Linked DNA regions of Homo sapiens. The protein of the gene in region 6 purifies or fractionates together with the protein of the main gene of each other region. This does not show direct contact. Each region holds a gene or a part of one and is shown on either strand. Other genes may lie near its edges.

Region 1 (4,902 bases), on a different chromosome or scaffold from region 6:
GGTCATGAGGGCAGCTTCCGGAACTGGCAGGCCTGAGTTTGTGTCTCTCTCTTCCCCAATGAGCTTTGTGACCTCACACAAGTATATAAACCTCTCTGTGCTTCCAGGAGTTCATTCCTGCAGCAGATGAAACGTATGGAGTGTGGACTGTGTGCCAGACCTTGTTTTAGGCACTGGGGATCCAGCCAGAATAGAGACACACTCCCCACTTCACAGACGGCTCTAGCTGGGAGAGAAAGATACTAAGTTTATCCAAAAGTACTTTTTTTTTTTTTTTTTTGAGACGGGAGTCTTGCTCTGTTGCCCAGGCTGGAGTGTAATGGCATGATCTCGGCTCACTGCAACCTCCACCTCCCAGGTTCAAGCCATTCTCCTGCCTCAGCCTCCTGAGTAGCTGGGACTACAGCCACACGCCACCACGCCTGGCTAATTTTTGTATTTTTAGTAGAGACGGGTTTCACCGTGTTGGCCAGGCTGGTGTCGAATTCCTGACCTCAAGTGATCTGCCTACCTTGGCCTCCCTAAGTGCTGGGATTGCAAGTGTGAACCACTGCACCCGGCCCAGAAGTACTTTTTGCATACTGGGTAGTCCTAAAGGCAATGGGTGGTCAGAAAAAGCTTTTTTTAAAAAAACTCTTTTTTCTTTTTTATTAAAAAAAAAATTATAGGGCTGGGTGTGGTGGCTCACGCCTGTAATCCCAGCAGTTTGGGAGGCCGAGGCGGGTGGATCACGAGGTCACGAGTTCAAGACCAGCCTGGCCAGGATGGTGAAACCGTCTCTACTAAAAATACAGAAATTAGCCGGGTGCGGTGGCGGGCGCCTGTAATCCCAGCTACACAGGAGGCTGAGGCAGGAGAATCGCTTGAACCCAGGAAGTGGAGGTTGCAGTGAGTCAAGACCATGCCATTGCACTCTAGCCTGGGCAACAGAGCGAGACTCCATCTCAAAAAAAAAAAAAAAAAAGTATAAAATAGAGATGGGGTCTTGCTATGTTGCCCAAGCTGGTCTTGAATCCCTGGGCTCAAACATCCTCCCACCTCAGCCTCCCCAAGTGCTAAGATTACAGGTGTGAGCCACCACACCTGGCCCGGAAAAGCTTTTTGAGCTGAGGTCTTGGGGGAGAGTGTTCTAGAAAGATGCAAAGGCCTAAGGCAATAGTCACCAACTTTTTGGCTCCAGGGACCGGTTTTGTGGAAGACAATTTTTCCACAGATGGAGGCAGGGAGGTGGTCTTGGGATAATTCAAGCACGTTAATCTTTATTATGTACTTTATATCTAATACGTTGTAACATAGAATGAAATAATTCTACAACTCATCATCATGGGGAACCAGTGGGAGCCCTGAGCTTGTTCCTGCAACTAGACGGTCCCAGCTGGGGGTGATGAGAGACAGTGACAGATCATCAGGCATTCGATTTTCATAAGGAGGGTGCAACCTAGATCCCTCACACGCCAGGTTCACAATAGGGTTCGCGCTCCTGTAAGAATCGAATGCCGCCGCTGATCTGACGGAAGCGGGGTTCGGGTGGTCCTGCAAGTGACGGGGAGCGGCTGTAAATACACTCACTGCAGCTCACCTGCTGTACGGTTCAGTTCCTGACAGGCCACGCCCCGGGGGTTAAGGACCCCCGGCCTAAGGACGGTCTATCATATAATTCACCTCGGCCGGGTACAGTGGCTCACGCCTGTAATCCCAGCACTTTGGGTGGCTGAGGCGGCCGGATCATGAAGTCAGGAGATCGAGACCATCCTGGCTAACACGGTGAAACCCCATCTCTACTAAAACCACAAAAAATTAGCCTGGTGTTGTGGCACACTCCTGTAATCCCAGCTACTCAGGAGGCTGAGGTGGGAGAATCACTTGAACCCGGGAGGCAGAGGTTGCAGTGAGCTGGGATTGCGCCACTGCACTACAGCCTGGGTGACAGAGCGAGACTCCATCTCAAAAAAAAAAAAAAAAGAATTCACCTCTCGAAGGGCACCTGGCAGAAGCTGGGCTCATAGGAGGTCTTCCGTGTGTGGGGGACTGCTGGTCCCTGGCTTCCCTGGGGCCCCATCCTCCTCCTCATAGAGTTGGGGACCCACTCCTCCTGTCCCCACAGAGGTGTGCTTGAAGGACCCCATGTCTGTGGCGGACAGCCTGTACAACCTCCAGCTCGTGCAGGATTTCTGTGCCTCTCGCCTTCCTCGTGGCTGCCCCCTGTCCCTTGAGGACTTGCTGTACGTCCCACCGCCACTCAAGGTAAGGCCATCCTGGGGCCTCCTGGGCCGAGGCGGGCATCTGGGGCCAGGGGTCCCGTCTGCTGACCCGGCCTCCCACCTCCAGGTCAACTTGGTGGTGATGCTGGCCGAGTTGTTCATGTGTTTTGAGGTGCTCAAGCCCGACTTTGTGCAAGTGAAGGACTTGCCCGATGGTCACGGTGAGGCCCTGGGGGCCTGGGGGCCGGGTCGGGGGCGGGTGGGAGAGCCAAACCCCCGCCTGACCCTCTTCTCTGTACTGCAGCTGCCTCCCCCCGGGGCACTGAGGCCTCCCCACCTCAGAACAACAGCGGCAGTAGGTACGCTCCCCACACTGGGCGAGTCTCTGGCATTGTGGGTGTGGGGCTCCATGTCTGCCTTGCTGAGCACTGGGACGCAGCTGGGTGATGCTGTTGTCTCCCCCCGGGGAGAGGCGGAGGAGGAGGTGGGGGTCCTGAGGCTGAAGTACGTCTCTCCGTACAGTTCTCCTGTCTTCACCTTCCGCCACCCGCTTCTGTCATCTGGTGGCCCCCAGTCCCCACTCCGAGGATCCACAGGTGAGGAGGGGGTAGGTGGCTTCTGTCACGGGGGACCCCCCCACTCACAGACTGCCCCAGTGGGCCTCATGTTGTCTCCTCGTGAGCCTTCCAATAGCCTCTCCATCAGATCCCCCTTGGGCATCCCAAAGTGACCCCCAGAATGGCCTCCCCAGTGGCCCCACAGTACCCCGTAGTGACAGTAAATGGCCCCGGGTATCTGTTTCTGGAAACCTCTGGTCTCACTAGACCACATAATGAGCCATCAGTGACTCACCCAATGACCTTGCAGAGGTTGTCCCCAGATGCTGGCTGACCCCACTCAGGGTTCCCAGGGTCCCCATAGTGACCACTCATCGCCTCCCCCAGGCTCCCTGAAGTCTTCCCCGTCCATGTCCCATATGGAGGCCCTGGGCAAGGCCTGGAACCGGCAGCTCAGGTGAGTAGACCTCACAGGCCAGGGTAGGGGGTGGAGCAGGCTAGGGCGGGTTGGGGCCGAGGCTGGTCCCAGGGGCTGACCCCTCCCTCCGGCCGCCCAGCCGTCCCCTCTCCCAGGCTGTGTCATTCAGCACCCCCTTTGGCCTGGACAGCGACGTGGATGTCGTCATGGGAGACCCTGTGCTCCTCCGCTCTGTGAGCTCGGACAGCCTGGGCCCCCCGCGTCCCGCGCCGGCCAGGACCCCCACCCAGCCACCCCCGGAGCCTGGTGACCTGCCCACCATCGAGGAAGCTCTGCAGATCATCCACAGTGCCGAGCCCCGGCTCCTCCCAGATGGGGCGGCCGACGGCAGCTTCTACCTCCACTCCCCTGAGGGGCCCTCCAAGCCATCCCTGGCCTCCCCCTACCTGCCCGAGGGGACCTCCAAACCACTGTCCGACAGGCCCACCAAAGCACCAGTGTACATGCCACACCCCGAGACCCCCTCGAAACCATCTCCCTGTCTGGTGGGGGAGGCATCGAAACCGCCAGCCCCATCCGAGGGGTCCCCGAAGGCGGTGGCTTCGTCCCCAGCAGCCACCAACTCCGAGGTGAAAATGACCAGCTTTGCAGAACGCAAGAAACAGCTGGTGAAGGCAGAGGCTGAGGCCGGAGCGGGGTCCCCCACGTCCACTCCGGCCCCGCCGGAGGCCCTGAGCTCGGAGATGAGTGAGCTCAGCGCCCGGCTGGAGGAGAAACGCAGAGCCATCGAGGCTCAGAAGCGACGGATTGAGGCCATATTCGCCAAGCACCGCCAGCGGCTGGGCAAAAGCGCCTTCCTGCAGGTGCAGCCGCGGGAAGCCTCTGGGGAGGCGGAAGCAGAGGCGGAGGAGGCCGATTCCGGTCCAGTCCCTGGTGGGGAGCGGCCCGCAGGCGAGGGCCAGGGTGAGCCAACCTCACGGCCCAAGGCAGTGACCTTCTCGCCAGACCTGGGCCCGGTGCCCCACGAGGGGCTGGGGGAATACAATCGAGCGGTCAGCAAGCTGAGTGCCGCCTTGAGCTCGCTGCAGCGGGACATGCAGAGGCTCACGGACCAGCAGCAGCGGCTCCTGGCCCCGCCCGAGGCCCCCGGATCCGCCCCACCACCTGCTGCGTGGGTCATCCCTGGCCCCACGACGGGGCCCAAAGCTGCATCCCCCAGCCCCGCCCGGCGAGTCCCGGCCACCCGGCGCAGCCCTGGGCCCGGGCCCAGCCAGTCACCCCGCAGCCCGAAACACACGCGGCCAGCGGAGCTGCGGCTGGCACCCTTGACCAGGGTGCTTACGCCACCCCACGACGTAGACAGCCTCCCCCACCTGCGCAAGTTCTCGCCGAGCCAGGTGCCCGTGCAGACGCGCTCTTCCATCCTCCTGGCGGAGGAGACGCCCCCCGAGGAGCCAGCCGCCCGGCCGGGCCTCATCGAGATCCCGCTGGGCAGCCTGGCAGATCCCGCCGCCGAGGACGAGGGAGACGGGAGCCCCGCTGGTGCTGAGGATTCCTTGGAGGAGGAGGCGTCTTCGGAGGGGGAGCCCCGGGTGGGGCTGGGGTTCTTCTACAAGGTGAGTCCCCGAGCAGGTGGCTGGAGGGTCCTGGGCCTGGGGCGGGGGCGGGTGGGGGCGGGGGGAGGTGGACAAACCCACTATTGGATGAATAGGGCTTTACTGAAGGA
Region 2 (4,902 bases), on a different chromosome or scaffold from region 6:
CTCCCCAGAAGCAGAAGCTACTATGCTTCCTGTATAGCCTGCAGAACTGTGAGCCAATTAAACCTCTTTTCTTTATAAATTAAATTACCCAGTCTCAGGTATTTCTTTACAGCAATTCGAGAATGGATTAATACAATTGCCAATTTTCCTTTTCTTTTTTTAAAAAATAAAAGCCAAAATAACACTTTTAAGATCCCAGGTTTTAGACAAGGCAGCTGTAGTCTCTCCATCATCCTCACTGTCCATTTGCTTCTTCCTGGGACAGACACTGTGGCCCAGTGAAGCTGAGGGGACCCTGGGATTCAAAGCTGGTGGAATGGACCCTCCCTCCCCCCACAAGCTGTAATAACCTGCTGGAATCCCACACAACCTGAGGGCTTCACTTGTCAACAGCTCCCTTCCCTCAGAGGCTATTTTGAGGCAGGCATTCGGTGTTTTATGACTGAGCTACCCAGGAGAATGGTTTGAGGCCACACTCAACTGTTCCAAGGAGCAGCACTGGACCAAAGGCTGCTTGGTTCCCTGCGGTTCCTGATGCCACCCCTTCTCTTCAGGGTGGTTACCTAGAAGACAACAGTACATGAGGCTTCCAGCCCAGCCCTAGGAGATCCATCCCAAAGACCCCACAGAGACCTGCATGGGAGGTGGGGCCACAGGTCTGGTATCAGGCAAACCTAGGTTGGAACACTGGCTCCATAAAGAGGAAGTCACTTAACCTTCTCTGGGGCATGGTTTCTTCATCTGTTCCCACCTCTGAAGACTATCGTAAGACAGAATGAAAGTTAAGCAACTTAACGCAACGCCCAGGATACCAGAATTATTCTAAATGGCAGAATCCTACTTAGTCTGTCATCTTGGGAGTTCTCTAGGCAGGCAGGTTGCCAGGGGTGGGGCTGAGATCCAGATGTGCTCTAGGTCCCTGTCTGCTGCAGAATCATGTGGCTGCTGGACCTGGGGGTCCCCCAGGTCCTTGCAGGAGCTGAGGGTAGGAGACTCCATTTGCCAAACAACTTAGAACTTTGGGCCTCAGTTTCCTTGTCTTTAAAAGGAACAGGTAAAGAATTCATAAAAACAATTGACAAGGGCTGCCTGGAATTTCCCTGTAATCTCTTCCAGGCAGAGGAGGCCTCAGAGGTGAGAGTAAGAGCAGGAAAACAGGGACAGGTTTCACTCTGTTGCCCAGGTGTGGTGGCTCAGGTCTGTAATCCCAGCACTTTGGGAGGCTGAGATGGGAGGATCGCTTGAGGCCAGGAGTTTGAGATCAGCCTGGGCAACACAGTGAGACCCATCTCTGCCAAAAAAATAAAACAATAAACCAGGCATGGTGGTACATACCTGTTAGTCTTAGCTACTCGGGAGGCTGAGGCAGGAGGACTGATTGATCCCAGGAGTTCAAGGCTGCAGTAAGCTGTGCCTGGGTGACAGAGCAAGACCCTGTCTCTCAAGAAAAAAAAAAAAAAAAAAAAAAGGCTGGGCGTGGTGGCTCATGCCTGTAACCCCAGCACTTTGGGAGGCTGAGGCAGGTGGATCATGAGGTCAGGAGATTGAGACCATCCTGGCCAACATGGCAAAACCCCGTCTCTATTAAAGAATGCAAAAAATTAGCCGGATGTGGTGGCACACGCCTGTAGTCCCAGCTACTCAGGGGACTTGCTTGAACCTGGGAGCGGGAGGTTGCAGTGAGCCGAGATCACACCACTGCACTCCAGCGTGGCAACAGAGCAAGACTCTGTCTCAAAAAGAAGAAACAAACAAACAACAAAAAAAACAGCACAGAAGGGTGGTGCTGTGGGCAGAGGGGTATTTCCAGTGGATGGGCTGTTACTGTTTTCTCAGGTTGGTCAAGATCACAGGCCCATGGAATGCTGGGGCCAGAAGGCACTAAGGCCACAGCATCAACATCTACTTCCCAGAGCATAACACCAAGGCCCAGAGCAACTGGGTAATGTGCTGGGAGCTACAATGAGTTTGAGGCAGAGTCTGGGCTAAAACCCATGTCTCCAGACGGGTTTAGGGAGGATCTTAGAAGTTTTAGAAAACATAATGCTTAGTTATGGCTGGGTGTGGTGTCTCACGCCTGTAATCCCAGCACTTTGGGAGGCCGAGGCAGGCAGATCACCTGAGGTCAGGAGTTTGAGACCAGCCTGGCCAACATGGTGAAACCCCATCTCTATAAAAGTTACCCAGGTGTGTTATGCACCTGTAATCCCAGCTACTCGGGAGGCTGAGGCAGGAGAATCATTTGAACCTGGGAGGCAGAGGTTGTAGTGAGCCGCCGAGATCGTGCCACTGCACTCCAGCCTGGGCGACAGAGCGAGACTCTGTCTCAAAAAAAAAAAAAGAAAATATAATGCTTAGTTCTGGTTTAAATTTGCTCACTGACTTTTCTTCTTTGAAGAATCAAATCTAGCTTATGACTCATAAACTAGATAACTATGATAATCTAGTTTATGATTCAGATACACTACGGTGGTAAATTCCTACAATTCAACTTCATGATTTAGCTCTAGTGCTGTAGGAGGGGTCCAGAGAGCTGAGGTCTGCCACTGCACTCAGGCTTGTGGGGGCTGGGTAACACCACCCTGCAGGTGGTAGTGAGAAAAAGAGGACTTGGGTGTTGTTATCTTCTGTGGCAGCAGCTGCCCTGGGGGTTCTGCAGGGAGGGGACAGGGTGAGGCCTTGGGGATAGGGCATTCGGGGCCCACCAGCCTGTGTGGCCTCAGTCTCAGGGAGAAGGAGCACCCGGGTGGCAGTAGAAGCCTCCAGGGAACCTCAGCTGGCATCATTGATGGGAGTGCGGGTGCCACCCAGCAGTCTCTCCTGCTCGCTCTCCTCTGCCAGGGGCCGGCCCCTGGACAGGCGGCCCAGCAGCGGACGGTGTAGCCCATTGTAGAGGGCAGTGCCTATAAGGAGTATGAGGAAGCCAAGGATCTGCAGTGCATGGAAGGCCTCCCAGCCCAGTGCCAGGCTCAGTGCCCAGATGACAACGGTGCGCAAGCTGTCCAACACCATGCGGGTGGTGGCGCTCAGTTCCTTGGTGACGCTGATGCCTGCGAAGTTGAAGAAGGCAATGCTGCTGATGTTGCCCAGCAGTGCCACGGCAATGAGCGGCTGCTGGCCCACCTGGCAGAAGGCGTCCAATGCATCCTCCAGTGTCCCACGAGGGTTTCCGCTGAAGGAGCCGGCGGGGATGTAGTACATGGGCACCAGCAGCAGGGAGAGGATCACAAAGCCAAAGAGGCCTGGGGAGTAGAGGAAACAGTTACACTCTCCACCTTCCCCCAGACCCCCAGCACAGCCCACCGGCTTAGCCTCCTCTGATCTCGGGTCATTCCCTCCCAGTGGTCCTCATGCCAGCTCCCTCCTTTCACGTCCCTCAGTCTCTCATCAGGAGCTTGTGGCCTATTAGATGGGTTCTAGCTGTCCCTTCTCCACTTTTACTCAGGGTTTTTTTGACTGGATCAAGAGTAAGAAATACATTTTATATTGTGACCCAGTACACGTGTGCACAGGTTCATGGACACACACACACACACACACTCATAAAAACATTACCCTTACAGTATACAATGCTCTGATATTTAAAAATTCTATTCATTTAAAAAAAGAACTGCCAGCTGCAACTGACTACATTATTTTCACAAGTTTGGAAAAACACAGCTTTCTAGTTCAGTGTGTTACTGGTCTGTGACAAGGAGCTTGCGCCAGAAGGTAAGTCCATGCACTGCTTCACTCATTAAGGTCTTGCTAGAAAACAGAAATGAGTGGAAATAGACTGCATGCTCAGTGATATAGCTAATTCACATTCTGCCTAAGTCCCTTAGCTCACCGGGGGCCAGACAAGAGCTGCTCCCCAACAGGCACTAGCCCCCAGGACATTCTTTGAAAGCGCAGCTGTATCTTGCTAATCTCATAATTTTGATACTTACTTCCCTGCTCAAAAACTTTCAGTGATTCCTCCGTCATTTAAAGTCTAAATCTACTTGCCTGATGGTAAAGTTCTCTAATGACATGACCCTGACCTACTTAATTCCTGATTATTTCCCCAACATCAAACCTATACTGCACTCAAATTATTATTTTTTGAGATGGAGTCTCGTTCTGTTGCCCAGGCTGGAGTGCGGTGGCGCAATCTCGGCTTGCTGCAGCCTCTGCTCCCCCAGTTCAGGCGATTCTCCTGTCTCAGTCTCCTGAGTAGCTGGGACTACAGGCATGCGCCACCACGCCCAGCTAATTTTTGTATTTTTTGTAGAGACGGTTTTGCCATGTTGGGCAGGCTGGTTTCAAACTCCTGACCTCAAGTGATCCACCCGCTTTGGTCTCTCAAAAGTGCTGGGATTACAGGTATGAGCCACCGCACCTGGCCACACTCAAAATTATTCCTCACTGGTTTTCAAATTCACATCCAGTCCCCTGTGCCTTTGCTCTGTTTGGAGCTGCTCCTACTACTGCCTGTTGAAATTTGCAGCTCGAATGCCACCCTCCCTGCCCTGAGAGACTCAGATAGGCATGGCCAATGAGACATCAGTTGAGCACAAGTGGTCCAAACTTGAATTCACTGACTGCCCTTTCTTCCTGCTGGTCACCTCCTCTGAAGGGCTTGCATCTCATTCATCTCTGTCCTTGGTCTCCTCTAGTTCCTGACACAGCAGGTGTCAGAAGACTTGTCAAAACACATCTGGAAGGCAAGGCGGGGCAGGAAGTTCACCCCCCACAAGTGAACCCTGGCACCTTGTCCTGTGCTCAGCTCCCCAGGCTCCCTTCTACCCCACTCCTTCCAGGCCCCTGTGCCCACACACACCCTCAGTGCCAACTGCCCGCAGTGGGTGCACATTGTGTTTGTAGACGAACTTCTCCTCTAGCACCATCTGGATGGCAACGATGATCTGGGCCATGATGATC
Region 3 (4,902 bases), on a different chromosome or scaffold from region 6:
CTCAAATCAGCAAGCACTTAATGTTTTAGGTGTTTTGCCATACAGTTTTCTTATCTCATTATACCTCTTAAGCAATAGAATAGTCTCCTTCTAAAGGAGAAATGGGGACCAAAGGAATACAGAATAGTTAAGTAGCAGAGCTGAAATTTGAACCCACTGTTCTGTGCTCTTTGAGCATGGCCAAATCCTATATACAGATAGGTCAAGTGAGAAAGTAACGTTTCACTTAGGTCCGTCGATTAGGTCCTTGGTGACCTTTATAAGAGCAGCTTCAGTGGAGTGATGAGGGAAAAGCCAGACTGAAGTGGATTGAAAAGTGAGAAGTGATTAAGTGAAGGTGGTATGCCTTGACTATTTTAAAAACCTTGGCTGTGATGGGAAGGGGAAGAGAGTTGATAGCTGGAATGTAGTGCCAGATTGCGGGAAGGTTTGTTGTTTTGTTTTGTTCTAGATACTAGAGACAATTTATGGAGAAGGAACCTGTGGAGAAAGGAGCATCTGAAAATGTAGTCTGTTCTTAATATCCATGAGGCATTGGTTCCAGGATCCCCCTCAGATACCAAAATTTGAGTATTCAAGTCCCTGATATAAAATGGCATAGTATTTGCATATAACCTATGCACGTATACTTTAAATCATCTGTAGATTACTTATAATACCTAATACAATGTAAGTGCTATGTAAATAGTTGTTATACTTTATTGTTTAGGGAATAGTGGAAAGAAAGAATAGTCTATACATGTTCAGTATAGTTGCAATTTTTTTCTGAATATTTTCAGTCCATGGTTGGTTGAATCCGTGATGCAGAACCAACCAGATATGGAGGATTGACTATATATGTAAAAGATTGAGATTAACCTTGAATTGTGGAGGGACAGAGGTTTGTCTGTTACCAACAGGAAAGAGGATAATAGGTAAGGATGCTGATGACTTTATAGAGGGTTGGTGGGAAACAGTTCTTTCTTGGTGCCTTAATGTTTTCTGAATTAAAGAAGATTGAAATAAGATAACTCTACTGTTATTTATTTATTTATTTTTGAGCTGCTGTTACGCACCAGACGGTCACTGTGTTTGCCTCACATGCATGTCCTCTTTTACACCTCTAATAACCCTCATGCAGTATAGGTAAAGATGGCCCCATTTTACGGGCAAGGGAACAGACTCAGCAAGGTTAAGTTACTTGATGAAATCACAAGCCCGCAAGTTGCATGTCTGTATTAAGTCTAGGGTTGACGGTCTTTTCTATTACATTATATACTTTGTCTGCTGAGTGAGAAGGGGCTGAGGTAGATGTCTGGAAGGCAGGTGGAGTGGTTTTGTCATTCAAGTTCCATCTCCTTTCTCCTCTCCCTGTGGCAGTCAGCTCCTCCCTTCCTGGTTACTCTGACATACTCATGATTTACCAAAGAATTAAGTAGCCAGTTTTCTTCTTAACAAGTTCTGCCACTATTCCAGCTGACTTTTTTTTTAATCCATCTGACTTCTGTTTCTGTGTCATTTGGGCTGCACTCCCATGGTTACACCTTCGAAATGGTCTTCTGACAGAATTGTTTCATCACTAAAATCTTAGATTCTAGTGTTACTTCTTATTTTCTTAGAAACCTAGCCTGAGACCTCTTGGAGCCCTTCTGGTTGCTGGACCTTTCCTTTTTGCTTGGTCAGTTAACCCTATTTACCCTCACTTCCTTCCCTGGATCCCTACTGCCCATCATTTCACCCCCTGCTTGTGGTGCCATTTTGTTTTCCTGACTGTTCTGCAACTTTCTTCCCTCTCCCATCCTAGGCCATTAAAAACACCTGACTTTTTTTAAGTTTGTTGAGAGCTGTTGAAATTTAAAGGTATTCTCAACAATGTGGTTTTTGCCTTAATTGTTACTGAAACTCAGTTGTGCCTTCAAGTTTATCAAAACTAGACCAATTCTACACCCTTACATACAGGATAGCAACAGTTTGTCCACATCTCAGGTATGGCAGTATCAGTTTAAGCCATATTGTTCATTTATCTCAGCATGTATATGACTGTTTAGAAATTGTGTTTACATAAGATCCCTCTGAGCCATTTTAGTGCCTGTGGTAATTTTGGTTCTTCCATTGGTTAGGAACGGGATTTTCCAACAGAAACCATTAAATTTGGTCCTGAACGCATGTATATTGATTGCTGGGTAAAAAAACACACCTATGACACCTTTAAGGAGGTTCTTGGATCAGGGATGCAGTACCACTTGCAGGTAAGTGTCATCCTTTCTACATATTTGCTTTTAAAGTAGGGAGCAGTCTTGAATATAGCTCACTTAATTGGCTTTTGAAATTAATTAGGTATCCAGAGTGCTTCCACATGTTAGAAAACAGTAAACTTGTTTTTGAAAGTAGACTTGAATAAATCTGAAGCTGTTCCTTTTTTTTTCTTTGTATTGTTAAAGTTGGGTGGACGGTTACTGATGTCTGTATGAAAGCAAATAGCTTGACATAGCTGTCTTGGATTCAAGGCATTGAAAACAATTTGCTTTCTATTGAGAAACAGAAAATAAGTGATCTAAGTTTATCTGTGGGTTCCACATAACTTCTGTTAATCAGAGTCACTCTGTCTAGTGAAAAAGAGCTATAATGTTTAATACTGAGCCATACCACCTTTTTCTTTCACATAAGTCAAATGAATTCCTTCGAAATGTATTTGAACTTGGACCCCCAGTGATGCTTGATGCTGCAACGCTTAAAACGATGAAGATTTCTCGTTTCGAAAGGGTAGGTTTTGTTTTTATTTTTAATAAAACTAAGTGCGCCAAAGCTTTGATTCTGTCTAGTGTCAGCAACTTAGCTGTGTCTACCTATATGTGGAGTTTTAGTTTTTCATGATGCTTCACATAGAATAGCTGTACTAAAGATACAGAAAGCATTTAGAGTGTGGGGGGCGTGTGTGTGTGTGTGTGTGTGTGTGTGTGTGTGTGTGTATATATGTGTCAGCCTGGGTGACACGAGTGGGACCTTGTCTCAAAAGCAAAACAGAGAAAAGAATATTGCTGCTTGTTTGCCCATTAGGTGTATTTCTTTCATTTTATGAAACATATTTTGACAACACGTTAAAATTTAATATGTACATATATATTTTACGTATAATTCTATCTTAATATAGGAACGGTGTTCATTATTTGTTTCTTTTTATTCTTTGGAGTTTTTATGTTTAAGAATAAGTATTTACATAGTCCTTTTGTATCAGATAATAGCCTGCTAAGTGAAGTACCAGACTCGTTTTACAAATGAGGAAACTTAAGAGAGTTAAATAGTAATTAATATCATTTTTACTTAACATTTCTTTTTTTTTTTTTGAGATGGAATCTTGCTCTGTCACTCAGACTGGAGTGCAGTGGTGCAATCTCGGCTCACTGCAACCTCTGCCTCCCAGGTTCAAGTGATTATCCTGCCTCAGCCTCCTGAATAGCTGAGATTACAGGTGTGCATTACCACACCTGGCTAGTTTTTGTATTTTTAGTAGAGACAGGGTTTTGCCATGTTGGCCAGGCTAGTCTCGAACTCCTGACCTCAGGTGATCCACCCACTTTGGCCTCCCAAAGTGCTGGGATTACAGGCATGAGCCACCATGACCAGCCTGCATTTCAAAAATCCTTAATTTATGTATTTTTTTTTGTGCTGAGATGAAATTCATATAACAGACTATTTTAAAGTATACAGTTCAGTGGCACTTATTACATTCATGATGTTGTACAACTCTAGTTCCAAAACATTATCACCTCAAAAGAAAACCTTCTGTTCATTAGCAGTCACTTCCCTTGTGCTACCCCCCGCCACTGGCAACCGCTAATCTGCTGTCTCTGGATTTACTTTTTCTGGAGATTTCATACAAATGGAGTTATATAGCATGCAACCTTTTGTGTCTGGCTTTTTTCATTTAGCATAATGCTTTGGAGGTTCATTCATGTTGTAGCATGAATTCAGAGAGCTTTATTCTTTTTTGTGGCAGAATAATATTCCATTGTATGGATATATATCACATTTTGTTTATCCATTTTAACAGTTGATGGACATTTGGGCTGTTTGCATCTTTTGGCCGTTGTGAATAGTGTTGCTCTGAACATTCACATACAAAATTTTTTTTGAAAGGCTCTTTGCAATTTTGGGAGGTATTACCTAGGAGTGGAATTGTGCTGGGTCAGATGATAGTTTTACATTTAACTTTCTCAGAAACCACCAAACTCTTTTCCATAGCTGCTGCACCAGTTTACATTCTCATCAGCAATGTAGAAAGAAAGGTTCCAGTTTCTCCACATCCTCACTAATAATTATTTTAATTATAGCCATTCTGGTGGGTGTGAAGTGTTTAATTACATTTTATAGAACCTGGATATTTTATCAGTTTTATATCCACATAATTGTTTCTTGTACGGCATTTTAAGTTTTTTTTAAGAAACATTAATATTTTTACATACTTCTCTCTTTTGAATAATTTTTTTGAAGAAATCCCCTGCATAATGTATTGCCAAATTACTTTCCAAAGTTACTCTTATATTGGAGACGATATTTAAATTGTCTCCAGCAATGAATGAAGGCATGTAGCTGTTACACAAAGATTTGACACCATTGAGTTTTATAATTTAAAAAATGTGTTTATTTAATTGATATTAAAATGGCACTTCATCACTTTTTTCCTTGTTCTAATTGACAGCCAAGTAGGACTATTTTCTGCATTAGTCATGATTTGTCTTTTCTTGGATGAAACAATGTTGATGTCCATTTTTCACTGTTGGTTTTTGAAATCGTCTAACTTTCTTGGCGTTTTACAATTTGATTAGTACTTTTCTTAATATGGAATAGCCATTAACTCTTTATTTATTTATTTTTTTTGAGACGGAGTCTCGTTCTGTTGCCCAGGCTGGAGTGCAGTGGCGT
Region 4 (4,902 bases), on a different chromosome or scaffold from region 6:
GCTCATTCATATGCTTGCTTCTCAGATGGCCTGGCACGCCTACCTTCTGATCAGATACTTTAGTTTTGGGATTTTCCTTGAATAAAAAAGGAAAATATCAAGAAAAGATTGTAAAAATTACTTTACTATAGTTGATTTTTTACCAAATTGTTTAGGATAAAGAAATAAGCAATAAATTTGTACCCTTTGATTCTTAGCCAGATTAGGATCTTGATGAGAACAAGAGGCATTGATTGTTCTTGAAAGCATCATTCCAGGTTTGTTGAAAGTGGGATACTGAGGTGAGAAGGGGCCAGTTAGCACGCACCAGAGACAAAGCTTGGGCCTTCAGGGGAGTATGGGTTCTTGGCTCTGTTAGTATGTAGAAGGATTTGTAGCATTTTAAATTGATGAACTTGATCTGGGTCTTCAAAAATATTTTTAGGTTAGTACTATCATAAGTTTCAAATAGACTCTCAAACGTATTTTTTTCATCTAGGTATTTTTGCAGTGTTGAAGGAAAAGTGCGGACAAATTCATAAAGCTTTACAAGGGTGAGTTTTATATATTTTCAACCAACATAAAGTTTATCTGCACCACACTTAACAACTAATGGAAAGTTTTAAATTTCTAGGCTTGGGTCAGTTTGACCAGATTGCAGCTAAGAAACCAAAAACTTAGTTCACTCACATTGGTTTATTTGTGTAAAACCAGATCATCTGTTTTAAAGAATCGTGACTTTGTTTTTCTGAAAATGAAACAAACTCATTAATAAAATATTACAGCAGTACAGAAGATAGAAAGATGAAAATAACAACCCAACATCTTACCACCAGAAATAACCAGGGTAAACACTGAAGCATCTCTCCATGTCTGCACACACAGGGATGCCATTATATATTATGTAATTAGATGACTGGGTTCATACCATCTGTGTTACTTTTTAATAAATTACTAAGTTTTAACACAAGAAAAAGAAACAAGTGAAATTTTATCAGTGTTTTTTTTTTTTTTTTTTTTTTTTTTTTACTACACAAGAGTCACTTTTTTTTTTTTTATTATACTTTAAGTTTTAGGGTACATATGCACATTGTGAGGTTAGTTACATATGTATACATGTGCCATGCTGGTGTGCTGCACCCACTAACTTGTCATCTAGAAGAGTCACTCTTTAAGATTCCTCTGTAGTTAAAAAAAAAAAAAAATGGAGGTTGGTGATATCTCCAGGCACATTTCTGGTCTTATATAAAGTGATTTCACATTGCCCGAGGTCTTTCTTTTTGCCTTTCCTAAGGTTAAACATGCTTTCTTGGTCATGAAAGTCCTATCTGTGTTCCGGATATGGAAACTGGAGACTTAACTGAAAGAAAAGGACAATTGATAAATGAGTACATCACAGCTGTTCCAGATAAAGAAGGGGCAGAGACATTAAAGTTCTGGGTGTGTCTGTGTGATAGTAACAGCAGTTCTTGCATGATTTATGGTAGAGAGATATATTTGTATTGGTTCCAGTTCCATTGGTTTGTGAAATATTAATATGCCAACACAGCCTAGCATATTGGAGTCACTGGAAATGCATCAGTGCTAGCCTTACATGCCTTTCACTCTATGGTGTTAACCTGCCTTTTTCTAAGTCTAATCTCCACTTACCCCAGCTGTATCACACTTTTTCTTTCCAAAATTCCTAATCCTCTGTCTTCACTCCCCTCACTTTTAGCTAACAGCCTGGCCTTATGCTGTCACTTGGGACTCTGTCATATTTCCTGACAAATCTACACACCTGTGGGTATCTGAACCAGTCTTCCCTCCTGTAGACCAGTAAATGTTGCTCCAACTACCACAGGCCCTTTTTTTAAGGACTGAGTGCCTTTGCTTGTCCCTGCTACTTTGTCATCAGCCTGTCCCCTTTCTTGTGTTATTTGATTAGCAGTCATGTCCACTTTAAATTCCTCTTGCCTGTCACCTGACGTTTCCCTCTGCAACTCCCCATGTCTTTGCTCCTCTCAGTAGCTATCATCTCCACGTCTTCACTTACACTGGCAGCTCTGAGACCTGGCTTCTGCTACTGCCCTTCGCCTGGACTGTTTTTGTGGAGGTCTCCACTGACTGCTGAATCCAGTGGACCATCTTCAGAGCTCATCTTCTTGATGTCCCCATAGTTTTCAGCACAGGTGACCACTCTTTCCTTCTTTGGACTCTGCTACACTGCACGCCTGGATTTCCTTTTACATCTTTGAATGGCTCCATCTCGGTCTCCTCTGAAGGCTTTCTTTCAACACCTTGCTCTTCAAGGCTTTGTCTGTGCTTCTCTTTTCTTCTCATTACCTTCTTGAAGAATTGCCTTCTCCCACACCTGGAGCTCCACATCGTTTCATGACACCTGTATAGAGACAGCTCCCAGCTTCGTATCACCACCCTGGACCACTGCAGCTGCAGGTCTCACACCCAGTTGCCTACTCAGTATCCACAGTTGGAAGACTCCATGGCACCTCACAGTAAACACACATTCATAAGGGTCGCAGGGGCAAACCGTGCTGGTATCTAGATGGTTACAGAGAACAGTAAACAAAATAGCAAAGAGGCCAATGTGACAGGAGGAAAGGAGTGGGAAATCTGGTGGAAGATGAGGGCTGGGTCATGGGCCATCCGCACACAGGGACTTGTGAGCCGTGATGAGGACATTGGCACACAGAGGAAGCCCTGGCATGGTTTTGAGCAAAAAAGTGAAACAGCCTATCTGATACCCTAGCAAAATTACTTTTGCATGGTGTGAAAAAATACATTGAACAGCAGTAAGAACAGAAGCAGGGAGACCAGTTAGGAGATTGACGCAGGTGAAAGGTGATAGTGACTCTGACCATGTTGGGAGCCATGACCTGCGAAGTGTCTGGATTCTGGGTATCTTCTGAAGGGAGAGCACACTGGATCTAGCAGAAGTTCATATGCAGGGTGAGTGAGAAAGAGAAGACTCCAGGTAGAGCTCAGGGGGTTTGGTCAGAGTAAATAGGTAGAGTTGCTAATGAGTGAGAGGGACAGAACTGTGGAGAAATACCTTCTGGGGAAGGTCAGCAGTGGTTATGTTAAGCCCAAAGTGCCCATCAGACATGGAGTGCAGAGCAGCAGCTGGATATACAAGTCTGAAGTGTGAGGGAGAGTACTGAGCTAGAGATAAATGTTTGAGTCTTGGGGTATGGATATTATATGAAGCATTTCAGTGTGAAGAGGTCAGAAACTAGCAAAGACTAGTCTGAGAAAGAGTGGCCAGTGAGGAAGAGGCAGGCTGGAAGAGCCTAGAGTCCTGGAAACCAGGGAAGAAATTGCTTATGTAGGAGGTCAGCCTGTGACATGCCGCTGCTGACAGGCCAGACCAGATAACAGAACACTGATCCTTTGACTTCGTTATGTAGAGGTATTATGACTTGGTGAGTAGTTTCAGGGGAGTGTGGGGTAAAATGCCTGCTTGAAGGAGGTTCCAGACAGGTGGACACGGCCTAGATGACTGTTTTGAGGAGTTTTTCTCTGAAGAGGGACTAAGAAACAAGATGGTGGCTGGAGAAAGAAATTGGTCAAGAGAAGAATATTTCAGTTTAAGATTACTGAGATCAATTTCTGAATAACATCTGGCTAAGTATAAAACATCCTTTCTCCTACTGGTTGACAGTACTGTATCATATACCAGGTTCCCATTTGTACCTAGATCTGTTTTTAAACTGTCTCTTCCATTCCATTGGTATATTTGCTCATTCCTCAGACTCTTTTGATTTTGTCTGTTTTTATCACTGTTTTGGAATACAGGTTTATCACTAGTGTCTGTTTTTATCACTGTTTTGGAATATGGGTTTCTCCAAAATTATTGCTAGAATCTTAATTGGAACTGCATTAAATTTTCTGATGAATGTGGAGGGAAATGTCATCCATGAACATGAGCTCTCTATTTAAATCTCCCTTTGTGTCCTTTAATGGAATTCCTATAAAGCCCTTGTACCTTTATGGAACCTTTAAAGGGAATTTTCAGACATCCTATAGATTTTGTTGCTGTTATGAATGGGGTTGTCTTTTCTGTTATATTTTCTACTTGATTATTGCTGATTCATAAGAATATTATTATTTTCTCTAAACTGACCTTATATCCAGGAGTCTTTCTAAACTCTTAGTATTTCCAGTAATTGTTTCATTGTGTTATGATGATGTGCATGGAAGTCCTGTTATCTGCAATAATGGTGTTCTCTCTTTCCTTCCTAATGCTTTTGCGTCTTAGTTCATTTTCTTATTTTATTGCTTTGGTCTGAGTCCCTAATTTGTATTGAACAGTGGCAATAATAGCAAACATTCCTTCCTTATTCCCAGTATAGAAGCACTTCTTCATTAAGTATAAAACATCATGCTATGGGTTTTTGGTGAGTAGCTTTTATTGAATTATTCCTAGTTTTGTTTTGTTTTGTGGTTTTTTTAAGAGACAGGATTGTGCTATGTTGCCCAGGCTGGAGTGCAGTGGCTATTCACAGATATAGTCAACACACTATAGCCTCAAACTCCTGGACTCAACCAATCCTCCTGCCTTCACCTTCCAACTAGTTGGGACTACAGGCATGTACCTCTGCACCTGGCTAAATGATTCCTAAATTTGAAGGCCTTTTTTTAAAATCATAAATAGACGTTGAACTTTATCCATTTTTTTTACATCTATTAAGGTAAATCATAAATTTGTCTTATGGCTGAATTACATTGAAATATTTTCTGATGTTAAACCATCCTTGCATTCTTGAGAAAACCGTTACTTCATTATAATATCTTTTTCTACACTGTTAGATTTATTTAGCTAATATTTTAATTTGACTTTTTATATCTGTTTATAATTTAAATGGATCTATAACCTTGTACCAACTTTACGTAACATAGGAGTCAGTGTTAGGGTAGCTTCGG
Region 5 (4,517 bases), on a different chromosome or scaffold from region 6:
GACAGGGTTTCTCCATGTTGGTCGGGCTGGTCTTGAACTCCTGACCTCAGGTGATCTGCCCGTCTTGGCCTCCCAAAGTATGCTGAACTTTTTAAGAAACTGCCACACCATTTTCCAAAGTGCTGGTGTCATTTGCCATTCCCACCAGCTGTGCATGGGATTTCCAATTTCTCCACTTCCTTGTCAGCACTTGGTAAGGGTGGGCCTTAATTTCGGTCATTCTAATAGGTAGGTGTACAGAAATATCTTGTGATTTTAACTGGCATTTTCCTAATGAGTAATAATGCTGAATACCTTTTCATGTGTTTATGTGCCATCCATCTATCTTCTTTGGTGAAGTGATTCTTCAAAGCTTTTGCCCATTAAAAAAAAAAATTGGCTTGTTTCTCCTATTACTGGGTTTTGAGAGTTCTGTATTAAATATATGATTTGTAAGTATTTTCTCCCAGTCTATGGCTTGTCTTTTCATTCTCTTTGTAGTAAATAGCGTCTTTGGAAGGACAAAAGTTCCTAAATGTGATGAAATCCAGTTTATCAATTTGTTCTTTTGTGGGTCAGACTTCTAATGTTCTAAGGAAACTTTGCCTTCGTGGTTTCTCCTAGGTGTTCTTTTAGAAGTCTTATGGTTTCAGGTTTTACATTTATTTCTGTGATCCATTTTAAGTTAATTTTTTGTAAGGTGTGAGGTATGGGCTAAGGTTCTTTTTTTGGTATATGGACATCCAATTGTTCTTTGCTATTTGTTGTAAAGACTGTCCTTTCTCCATTTAATTATTTTTCGACCTTGTCAAAGAGCAAATGACACTTTTTTTGTGTGTGGGCCTATTTCTGGACTTTCTGTTCCATGGATCTATGTTTGTGACTATTCCCTTTTTTTTCTTTTTGAGATGGAGTCTCACTCTGTCGCCTAGTCTGGAGTGCAGTGGCACAATCTTGGCTCACTGCAACATCCGCCTCCCGGTTTCAAGCGATTCTTGTGTCTCAGCCTCCCAAGTAGCTGGGATTACAGGCGCACTACCACACCAGCTAATTTTTGTACTTCTAGTAGAGATGGGGTTTCATCATGTTGGCCAGGCTGGTCTTGAACTCCTGACCTCAGGTGATCTGGCCGCCTTGGCCTCCCAAAGTGCTGAGATTACATGCGTGAACCACCGTGCCTGGCCTTGACTATTCTTTTACCAGTACCTCCCACATTGTCTTGGCTACTGTAGCTTTTGAGTAAGTCTGAACATCAGGTAGTGACCATACCTACCTTTTCAGCAGGGGGGCTGCTGTTCTCCCCACTTTACAGATGAAGAAACTAACCACAATCATGGAGTCTTCCTGATAGTCTCCCTTATCATCAGGTGTTAGATGCTTAGCTCATGTTTAACACCTAATGCCTGGTGCCTCGCATGCTTGATGCTCAGGACATCGCCTTTGCAGTCTGGGTTGGGTTTGACTCTTAGCTCTGTTTTTGTTAGTTGTATACCCCTAGGAAAGTAATCTTACCCCCTGTGCCTCAGTTTCTTCATCTGTAAAGTGGACGTCACCTGCCTTATACATCGTGGCAAATATTAAATGAGTCCATGTATCAAGTGAAACCATGTGAAATTGCTGATCTCTGACCATTTTCACAGACACAAATGACAGTTTTACCTAGTCCAACCTAACATGCAAAGCATTCCTTGTAGTACTGGAGAAAGAGTAGGTTCTCCAGAAAATGGTCCCTGTAGCTGCTGCCATGCTCACTAATACAATGCCTGCTTCTGCTGCTGTTGCTATGACATTGTTATTACTGAAGGTGGTGGCTCTGAGGCTGATGTTTCATGTTCCTTGTGCCCTCTAATCAGGCAGCCAGTGTCTACAAGGACTTCCCAAGTGGCAAGCTTCTTGCTGAGTCTGCCAAGAGTAATCCAACCCTTTGCAGAGTTGGATTGTGGGGCAGAAGTGCTCACCTAGCAGGATACATGTGTGTGCAAAGTGCAGTGGGAGAAGCTGAGTGGGCAGGAGGGGTGGGGGCCACTTCCTGGATGTGGCCCATTAAGGGAGCCTGGTAGGATGGTTGGGAATTTGGGATGGGGGGAGTGTTCCAGGCACAGGTAATGGCTTGTGTAAAGGCTTGGAAGGGGCAGTGGACAAGCTTCAGGGGGAGCCTGAGGTTTGACTGTTGGGTAGAGGGGGAAGCTGCTTATGGTGGCCTAGGCTGCCTGCACAACTAACCCCATCCTTTGCTTCCGCAGGTCCCACCCACCTCTGCCTCCGCCATGGCTGCAAGAACCGTTATCATTGACCACGGGTCTGGCTTTTTGAAGGCTGGCACGGCCGGCTGGAATGAGCCTCAGATGGTCTTCCCGAACATCGTGAACTACCTACCGTGCAAGGAGAACCCTGGCCCCAGCTATGCCCGTAGGCGTGTGAGCCTGGGCATCGACATTTGCCATCCTGACACCTTTAGCTACCCCATCGAGCGGGGCCGCATCCTCAACTGGGAGGGTGTGCAGTACCTCTGGTCATTTGTGTTGGAGAACCACAGACGGGAGCAAGAGGTCCCCCCTGTGATCATCACGGAGACACCCTTGAGGGAGCCTGCGGACCGAAAGAAGATGCTGGAGGTGAGGCCTGCCGGGGCCTGCTCCCACTCGGGAGCGGGAAACAGACTGACACTATGTCTGGACTGATTGGGCACCAGGAATTCTGCTTTTTAAGATAAATTGCCAACCAGGTGTGGTGGCTTATGCCTGTAATCCCAACACTTTGGGACTCCCAGGCAGGCAGATTGCTTGAGCCCAGGAGTTCAGGACCAGCCTGGGCAATATAGTGAGACCCCTGTCTCTATAAAAAATACAAAAATTAGCCAGGTGTGGTCCCAGCTACCTGGGAGGCTGAGGTGGGAGGATCAGTTGAGCCCGGGAGGTCGAGAATAGAGTGAGCTGAGATCACGACACTGCACTCTAGCCTGGGCAACAGAGCAAGGCCCTGTCTCAAAAAAACAAACAAACAAAAAAACCCAACAGAAACCAACAAATTGCCCCACAAACATTTCCCAAGAACCTAGTGAATGCCTGGTGTGCCACTAAGCAGGGGAGCTCACGGAGGCCCCACCTGCAGACGGACATGCAGCAACCAACGTGCTTGGTGGAAAGGGGGTTACCAGGGAGACGTGGAATATTTGCTTATGGATTCCATAATTGCTGATACAGGCCATGTTCTGGCCCTCAGAGAGCTTCCATGAAGGGGTTAAGAAATAATTCCAGGTAGTGATGAGTTCTAGAACCATAATGAAATGGGATCATGGTGGACTGTTGGGGGTGGGGAACCTGTTTGAAGAGAGCGCTCAGGAAGGGCTTCTCTGACGGAGGTGATTTCAGCAGCAAGAGCGGCAAGAGGCAAATAGGATGGTGAGGTTGGAGGAGGCTGGGCCTTGTAGGCCTGGTAGGCTGTGGGGAGTGCTTGGATTCTACTTTAAATCAAGGATTGGCAACCCAGTGAGCCAAATCCGGCCCACCACCTATTTTGTAAATAAAGTTTTATTGGAACATAGCCACACACATTCATTTATATGTTATGTAAGATAGAAAGAGAGAGGAAAGAAAAAAGAACATATGCTCATTGCCTGGTAGGTAAAGCCCTATTATTATTTTTTAAATAAAAACTTTCCAAACATGAAGACAAAACAGGAATTCTGATATTTAGGGTTTGGCAGAGTGTGCTTTCATACGACAGCATCTGAGTTAAGTTGTTGCAGCAGAGACTGTTTGAGACCATACATCAAGTTAAAGGCTAAAATATTTACTATTGTAGGTTTACTAGGTAAAATACGTGATGCCTAGTTAGACTTGAGTTTCAGATAAATTACAAATAATGTCTTAGTATTTAAGTATGTTTCATATTGCATGGGGCATACTTACACTACAATATTATTTATTATTGATCTGACATTCACATGTAACTGGGCATCCTGTAGTTTTATTTGCTGAATTTGGCAACCCTTACTGTCTATCCCTTTACAGAAAATGCTTGCCAGCCACTGCTCTAAGTGAATAGGAAGTTCCTGGGGAGTTTTAAATGGAGAGTTTTAAATGGGGGAGTTGTATCTGATTTTCTATTTGAAAAAGAGGACCTTGGCTGCTATTTTGAGAAATGGCTGGTGGGGGGACAATTTTCTGAGAGTAGTAATGGAGGGAGCCCCCTCCCACTGAGGGGAGACGATGGGCTTGTGGGGGCTTGAAGAGGTGAGTAAGTGGCTGGGACCACAGAAGGGTTGACTGTTAGGATCTTTCTGCTTCTATGGGATTAGAACCTTGGGGAGGCTGCCAGAGCTGAGGAATGGGGGGCAGGGGGGCTTTGTAAAGATTCAGGGGGTGAGGAGCAGGGGGAGAAAACCAGCCCAGGGACTCTGGCAAACCCTAAATACCAGAATTCCGGGTTTGTCTTGACGTTTGTAAGGTTTTTATTTAAAAGAAAAAATAAGGCTTTTCCTGCCAGGCAGTGAGCATCTTTTCCCTTTTTTTCTTTTTTCTTTTCTTTTCTTTTCT
Region 6 (5,262 bases):
AAACCCAAGTTTTGGGACATTATACAAAATACCTGACCAATACTTCGTAGAAGTGTCAAGGTCATCAAAAACAGGCAAAGTCTGAAAAACTCTCACAGCTAAGTGGAGCCTATGGAGACATGACGACTAAATGTAACCTGAATGGGATCCTGGAACAGAAAAAGGACATTAAGGGAAATCCAAATAAAGTACGTACTTTAGTTAATAATAATGTATCAATATTGGTTAACAGTGACAAATGTACCATACTAATGTAAGATGTTAATAATAGGGGACAGTGCATATGGGATACTCTGTACTATCTTTGCAATAATTGTGTAGATCTAAAACCATCCTAAAAGTTTATTAAAAAAAAATACTGTAAGGAAATAAAAAGCTACTCAAGAGCCAGGGGGAAAAAATCACATAGGTAGATGGGTCTGTTGAAATAGTAAAGCAGGGCTTAACAGAAATTTCCTGGGAGACAATTCCTAAGAAAAAAGTGTTAGCAGACTAGAGATTAACAAATGAGAATAGCACACCATCTCGTCACTCAGCTTTTCCTCCTGGCTCAATCTCCACTATCTAAATCCGGTGGAAACGGCTATATGCAAAAATATACACAAATCAACAAAAAACATGGAAAGCAGTGTTTTGTAAAAACTTCATAAAACATCAAGGCCCAAGTGACAATTGGGTACTAACAACCTGAGTTAGGATAATTCTATTGTAGGTAGAGAGGGAATTCTCCACTTTTCTGTTGGGACAGTGTTGCTTAGTCCATCATGGTCTTCAGCCCACCAGCAGCAGCTGGGGCCTTAGGAGGGTGCAGGATCCATGAGAAGGGGCACACTACCTTTCAAGTATGGCATTACCCAGGAAGAGTGGCACCCATCTCTCAGCTGTCTGGACTTATTTCTGGGCACAGGTGAGACCCTCCTTCAGCCCTTCCCAAGTATCTGACTGGGCACTGGTTCTGCTAGTGCAAGGGGAGAGAGTAGGAGCCAGCCTAACACAGCTCACACACTCAATACCTCATTTGATCTTCTCCACATGTCTAGGCTAATTTTATCCCCATTTCACAGATGTCAAGGCTGTCCCTTACAGCAATGGCTCTGTAATAACCATCGAGTTGACTCCTCCAGCTTCCAGTCCCAGAGGTAATGCAACTTTTACCTATCATTTTATGTCCTCACAAGAATTTTAAGTATATCCACTGTCTTTATAAGTTCACTGGGCAGTTCATTTGAATGCTTATTCAAATGAATGAAATTCAAATATTCACTGTTTTCCAATACTTTATATTTTATTATTTTTATGACTAAAGAAATCTGTTTTTAGGAGAAAAATGGACAGATGAACAAAAAAGAACAGAAAAAATCACCCAGAGATAACCACTGTTAATCTTTTAGTGGACACAGCTTTCAGAATTGTTTTCTATACTATATTACTAGGTAAGTATCTTTGTAGTTTTACAAAAATGTACTGATGCCATATATTTGGTTCTGCAAGTTGTGTTTTTTAATTTTACAATGCACCATCAACATTTTTTCCATGTAACAGATGAACATTTCCTACTGAGAACACTGCATTGCAGATAGGTCAAAAGGCTGCTAGCAACAGGAGGGATGCCTAAAGTAAAGTATTACCGTAACGTTAAAGCACATGGCCTGGTAAATGCCTGCCAGGGACACTACACATAAGGAATGTCTTCAATGTCCCTTCGTGGGGCCCTGCAGCCACCCCTGAATTCCCTTGGACCTCTAGGGTAGAAGGGGTCCTGTAAATTTCTTTGCATCCACAAAAACGCCCCCAATTTCTGTTTGCTTTTTCTCTTCTCATCCTGCACCTTAGCCATATTGTCAAATTCTCTTATCATGTCCTCATTGCTGAAATTCATATCATGTATGGCCTCTTTATACTCCTTGAGGTAATGAGCCAGCCCCTTATTAGTTTTTCTTTTGGCTTTCCTGGGTACATCATCCTCAGCTGGGCGCTTTCCTGCAGCCCTTGTTTCACTCCCTGGCTCTCCTTCACTCTCTGGCTTTCCCTCTATCTCTGGTTTTCCCTCTCTCTCTGATCCTCCCTCCATCTCTGACTCTCCCTCCCTCTCTGACTTTCCTTCTTTTGCCTCTCCCTCACTCTCTGGCTTTCCTTTATCCTTTAACATTTCCTCATCTCCTGTTTTGCCCTTGTTTTCTGTCTTTCCCTCGTTTTCTAACTTCTTGTCTTCCAGAGTACAAGTTACTTCTGGCTTTCTCTCGTCTTGTGGCTGTTCTTCATTTTCCATCTTTCCTTGGTTTGAAGCCATTCCTTCATTTTCACTGTAGAGTTTTTCCATGTCGAGATTTCCCCTCCTTTTCCTGTCCTGGGGGATGGGGGTGGAGGAAAGAGGAGACAAAGAGGAGACATGGGAGACTGAGTGCATGGGGTGGAATGCAGGTCTGGATAGTACTTGCATCTCACCCCTGATGAGGGTTCCCCTAAGCTGGCCAGGCCTCCAAGAGGGCCTTCTGCCCACCACGTAGCCCGCCACTCCTCCCACACACGTGAGCCAGCCATTGCCTGACAGGCTCTGCCACTTTCTCTGCACTGGTTCAGCCTGGTAAGGTGTGTGTTCATGTGGGTGGGGGAATGGGAAAGGCCCCAATTCGGCCCTGGCCGGGCCCTCCACACTCTCAACCCTTGTGGGCCCCTGTCCATGCAGCCCCGTACTTTCACGGACCTGCGGGGATTCTGGACAGGTTGCTCCTCCTTTTCAGGCTTCGCAGAGCGCTGGGAACAACAGACGCGCAGACCTGCAGACAGACAGGAGACAGGGGCAGGGTCTGCGCGCTCAGCGGGCTCACACGGACGCGGTTCCCTTTCCTGAGTCCAGGCCCTTCTCATCCAACGTTTTCCTCCCCTACCTCCGCCGCACCCCAGCCGCCATTTCTTTCCAGGCCTCGGGCACCAAATCAGGATGCTTTCCAAACTAATTTTGGGTCTCTGTGCCCTTCTTCCTCAGAGGCAACTCTCCTCCCCAGCCTCGCGGTCAACGTTTTTCTCTACGCACGGGAACGGCAGATGGGGTTTACTTCCACTGTCTCACTACTGGGGCGGCCCCAGCCCACCATCTCCGGCTCCAAAATGGACGGAGGGCAGAGAAGAGGATGTGCCTGGAAAGCGAGCATGGATACTTGGGGGTGCTCGCCTTCCTCACCCTCTGCCCACTGCCTACGTGCTCCCCCTCAGCCACCCCTAGCCGTTTTCCCACCGCCATCTCTGTCCACACTCGGGCCAGCTTCCCTCGACTCGACCCGACCCCACCCCCAGCCTTTCCCCCTGCCGTACCCGTTCCCCTTCCGCCATTCCAGTGTTCCGCTGGCAGCGTGGAAGGCCCGCACACTGACCTGGAAGAAGCTGGACCAAGAATTAGGAGCCCAGGAACCGGAGCAGACGAGACCCAGCCGCGGGGACAGAGGGCAGGCACTCGGACCGGTGCCTACATCTGCGCCCGTGCAGATCACGTGAATGCCGCAGCCCAGGAGTTCCACCGCCCCACGCCCCGCCTCCTAGCCAGCCGCTTCCAGCCACCCACCACCTCTCCAGCAGGTACCCTCTTACCTCCCTGGGCCCTTTTGTCCTTTTTTTCTTGTTAAGAAATTAATCAAAGAAAGAATCTTAATGAAAATCACAGTTTTTTTTTTAATGAGTTGGGCGGTCCAGAAGAGGAGTCTTGATAATGTTGCTCTTAAATTCCACTGAAATAACGTAGACCCACCCGATAAAATCGTATGAATGTGAACTTAAGTACTGTATAAAGAATAGAATATTGCCCTTTAGAAAAAACTTAAGAAAAATTTTCCAAAATAAATGAAATTGTCCCTTTTTCCTGACATGTACAAACATAAATTTTCAAATGAATAAAAAATAAAGTTATATTTGAAGCAAAATAAAACAACGATTAATTTATCTTAAGTGAGAAACTGAATATACAATGACCAGACCACATACGAAAATAGAACTGTGACCCACAACCTTTGCTGCAAGCAGCTCAAAAAGCCAAAGTATAGCATCTGCAGAAATGTTCAGGACTTTAATCAATTTGCTAGCCTTTCTGGCCTTTTTAATTTTTTTGACCTGATGACAAACAAGAAAAACCCAAATATGAACCCATATTCAATCACATAGGATGCTTGCCTCTAGTTGGCCTGCCTCTAGCTTCCTCACGTCAACAACATCCAATCAGAGCGTAGCTGAAGTCTTTGTGTTTTTGTTTTCCACTATAAAGCTTTCCCACTCCCCTGCCTGTCTTTGAATCTCTGCCAGACTCAAATGATGGTGGCTTGACTTCCTTGCTATAAAAAAGCTGTGAATAAGTAGCACTTGTTTGTTCTCTTATGGGTAGACTCCGTTTATCTCCACATAAGCTTTTGGTGTGGAAGGCCTTTATAGTCACGTGCCACTTAATAACGGGGATATGTTCTGAGAAATGCATCAGGCAATTTCGTGGTGGTGCGAACATCGTAGAGTGTAGTTATACAAATCTATATGGTATAGCCTACTACACTCCTAGGCTACATACTATAGCCTATCGTATTCTATGCTGTCCGTTGTCGTTGACCAATCGATACGCAGTGTGACTGTACAACAAAGAGACAAATGCTGATAGATTAGATTACATGAAAATTTTTAACAGATTTGTTGAAGGACTGGGGACACATGCACTCTCCCCTGCTCTTATTGAATATGTTGGTGAAATTTTTCTGAAGATCAACTTTGTAAATTATTTAAAAATAAAAATATCGGCCAGGCACGGTGGCTCACACCTGTAATCCCAGCGCTTTGGGAAGCTGAGGCGGGTGGATCACCTGAGGTCAGGAGTTCAAGACCAGCCTGACCAGGATGGTGAAACCCCATCTCTACTAAAAATACCAAAACTAGCTGGGCGTGGTGGTGGGCGCCTGTAATCCCAGCTACTCGGTAGGCTGAGGCAGGAGAATTGCTTGAACCCGAGAGGCAGAGGTTGCAGTGAGCCGAGATCACGCCATTGCACTCCAGTCTGGGCGACAGAGTGAGACTTCGTCTCAAAAAAAAAAATTAATATTTGATCTTTTGTGCCAGTAATTTCACTTCTAATAGTTACCCACAATGATAATTTTCTTTCTTCAACTTTTATTTTAAGCTCAGGGGCACATGTGCAGGATGTGAAGGTTTGTTATGTAGATAAACATGTGCCATGGTGGTTTGCTGTATAGATCATCTCATCACCCAGGTATTAAGCCTGGCAGCCACCAGCTA

Evidence for each region.
Region 1: the proteins of TCEAL4 (region 6) and CAMSAP3 purify together in Homo sapiens (affinity purification with mass spectrometry; one large-scale study listed by BioGRID and IntAct). This does not show direct contact.
Region 2: the proteins of TCEAL4 (region 6) and SLC35F6 purify together in Homo sapiens (affinity purification with mass spectrometry; one large-scale study listed by BioGRID and IntAct). This does not show direct contact.
Region 3: the proteins of TCEAL4 (region 6) and IFRD1 purify together in Homo sapiens (affinity purification with mass spectrometry; one large-scale study listed by BioGRID and IntAct). This does not show direct contact.
Region 4: the proteins of TCEAL4 (region 6) and SPTLC1 purify together in Homo sapiens (affinity purification with mass spectrometry; one large-scale study listed by BioGRID and IntAct). This does not show direct contact.
Region 5: the proteins of TCEAL4 (region 6) and ACTL8 purify together in Homo sapiens (affinity purification with mass spectrometry; one large-scale study listed by BioGRID and IntAct). This does not show direct contact.

The regions. Positions count from the first base shown.
Region 1 is NC_000019.10:7,608,372-7,613,273, forward strand, and holds part of CAMSAP3 (calmodulin-regulated spectrin-associated protein 3), read left to right. Parts: intron 1-2,104; coding exon 2,105-2,244; intron 2,245-2,328; coding exon 2,329-2,422; intron 2,423-2,505; coding exon 2,506-2,560; intron 2,561-2,723; coding exon 2,724-2,797; intron 2,798-3,145; coding exon 3,146-3,215; intron 3,216-3,315; coding exon 3,316-4,792; intron 4,793-4,902. UniProt on the Homo sapiens protein: Key microtubule-organizing protein that specifically binds the minus-end of non-centrosomal microtubules and regulates their dynamics and organization.
Region 2 is NC_000002.12:26,776,382-26,781,283, reverse strand, and holds the end of SLC35F6 (solute carrier family 35 member F6 precursor), read right to left. Parts: coding exon 4,802-4,902; intron 3,243-4,801; coding exon 2,773-3,242; 3' UTR 53-2,772; downstream 1-52. UniProt on the Homo sapiens protein: Involved in the maintenance of mitochondrial membrane potential in pancreatic ductal adenocarcinoma (PDAC) cells. Promotes pancreatic ductal adenocarcinoma (PDAC) cell growth. May play a role as a nucleotide-sugar transporter.
Region 3 is NC_000007.14:112,470,120-112,475,021, forward strand, and holds part of IFRD1 (interferon-related developmental regulator 1), read left to right. Parts: intron 1-2,099; coding exon 2,100-2,228; intron 2,229-2,646; coding exon 2,647-2,742; intron 2,743-4,902. UniProt on the Homo sapiens protein: Could play a role in regulating gene activity in the proliferative and/or differentiative pathways induced by NGF. May be an autocrine factor that attenuates or amplifies the initial ligand-induced signal.
Region 4 is NC_000009.12:92,041,630-92,046,531, reverse strand, and holds part of SPTLC1 (serine palmitoyltransferase 1), read left to right. Parts: intron 1-478; coding exon 479-533; intron 534-4,902. UniProt on the Homo sapiens protein: Component of the serine palmitoyltransferase multisubunit enzyme (SPT) that catalyzes the initial and rate-limiting step in sphingolipid biosynthesis by condensing L-serine and activated acyl-CoA (most commonly palmitoyl-CoA) to form long-chain bases.
Region 5 is NC_000001.11:17,820,763-17,825,279, forward strand, and holds part of ACTL8 (actin-like protein 8), read left to right. Parts: intron 1-2,222; 5' UTR 2,223-2,246; coding exon 2,247-2,594; intron 2,595-4,517.
Region 6 is NC_000023.11:103,583,734-103,588,995, reverse strand, and holds TCEAL4 (transcription elongation factor A protein-like 4), read right to left. Parts: upstream 3,482-5,262; 5' UTR 3,372-3,481; coding exon of another isoform or gene 3,236-3,371; intron 3,138-3,235; exon of another isoform or gene 2,869-3,137; coding exon of another isoform or gene 2,695-2,868; intron 2,348-2,694; coding exon of another isoform or gene 2,321-2,347; coding exon 1,673-2,320; 3' UTR 1,267-1,672; downstream 1-1,266. UniProt on the Homo sapiens protein: May be involved in transcriptional regulation.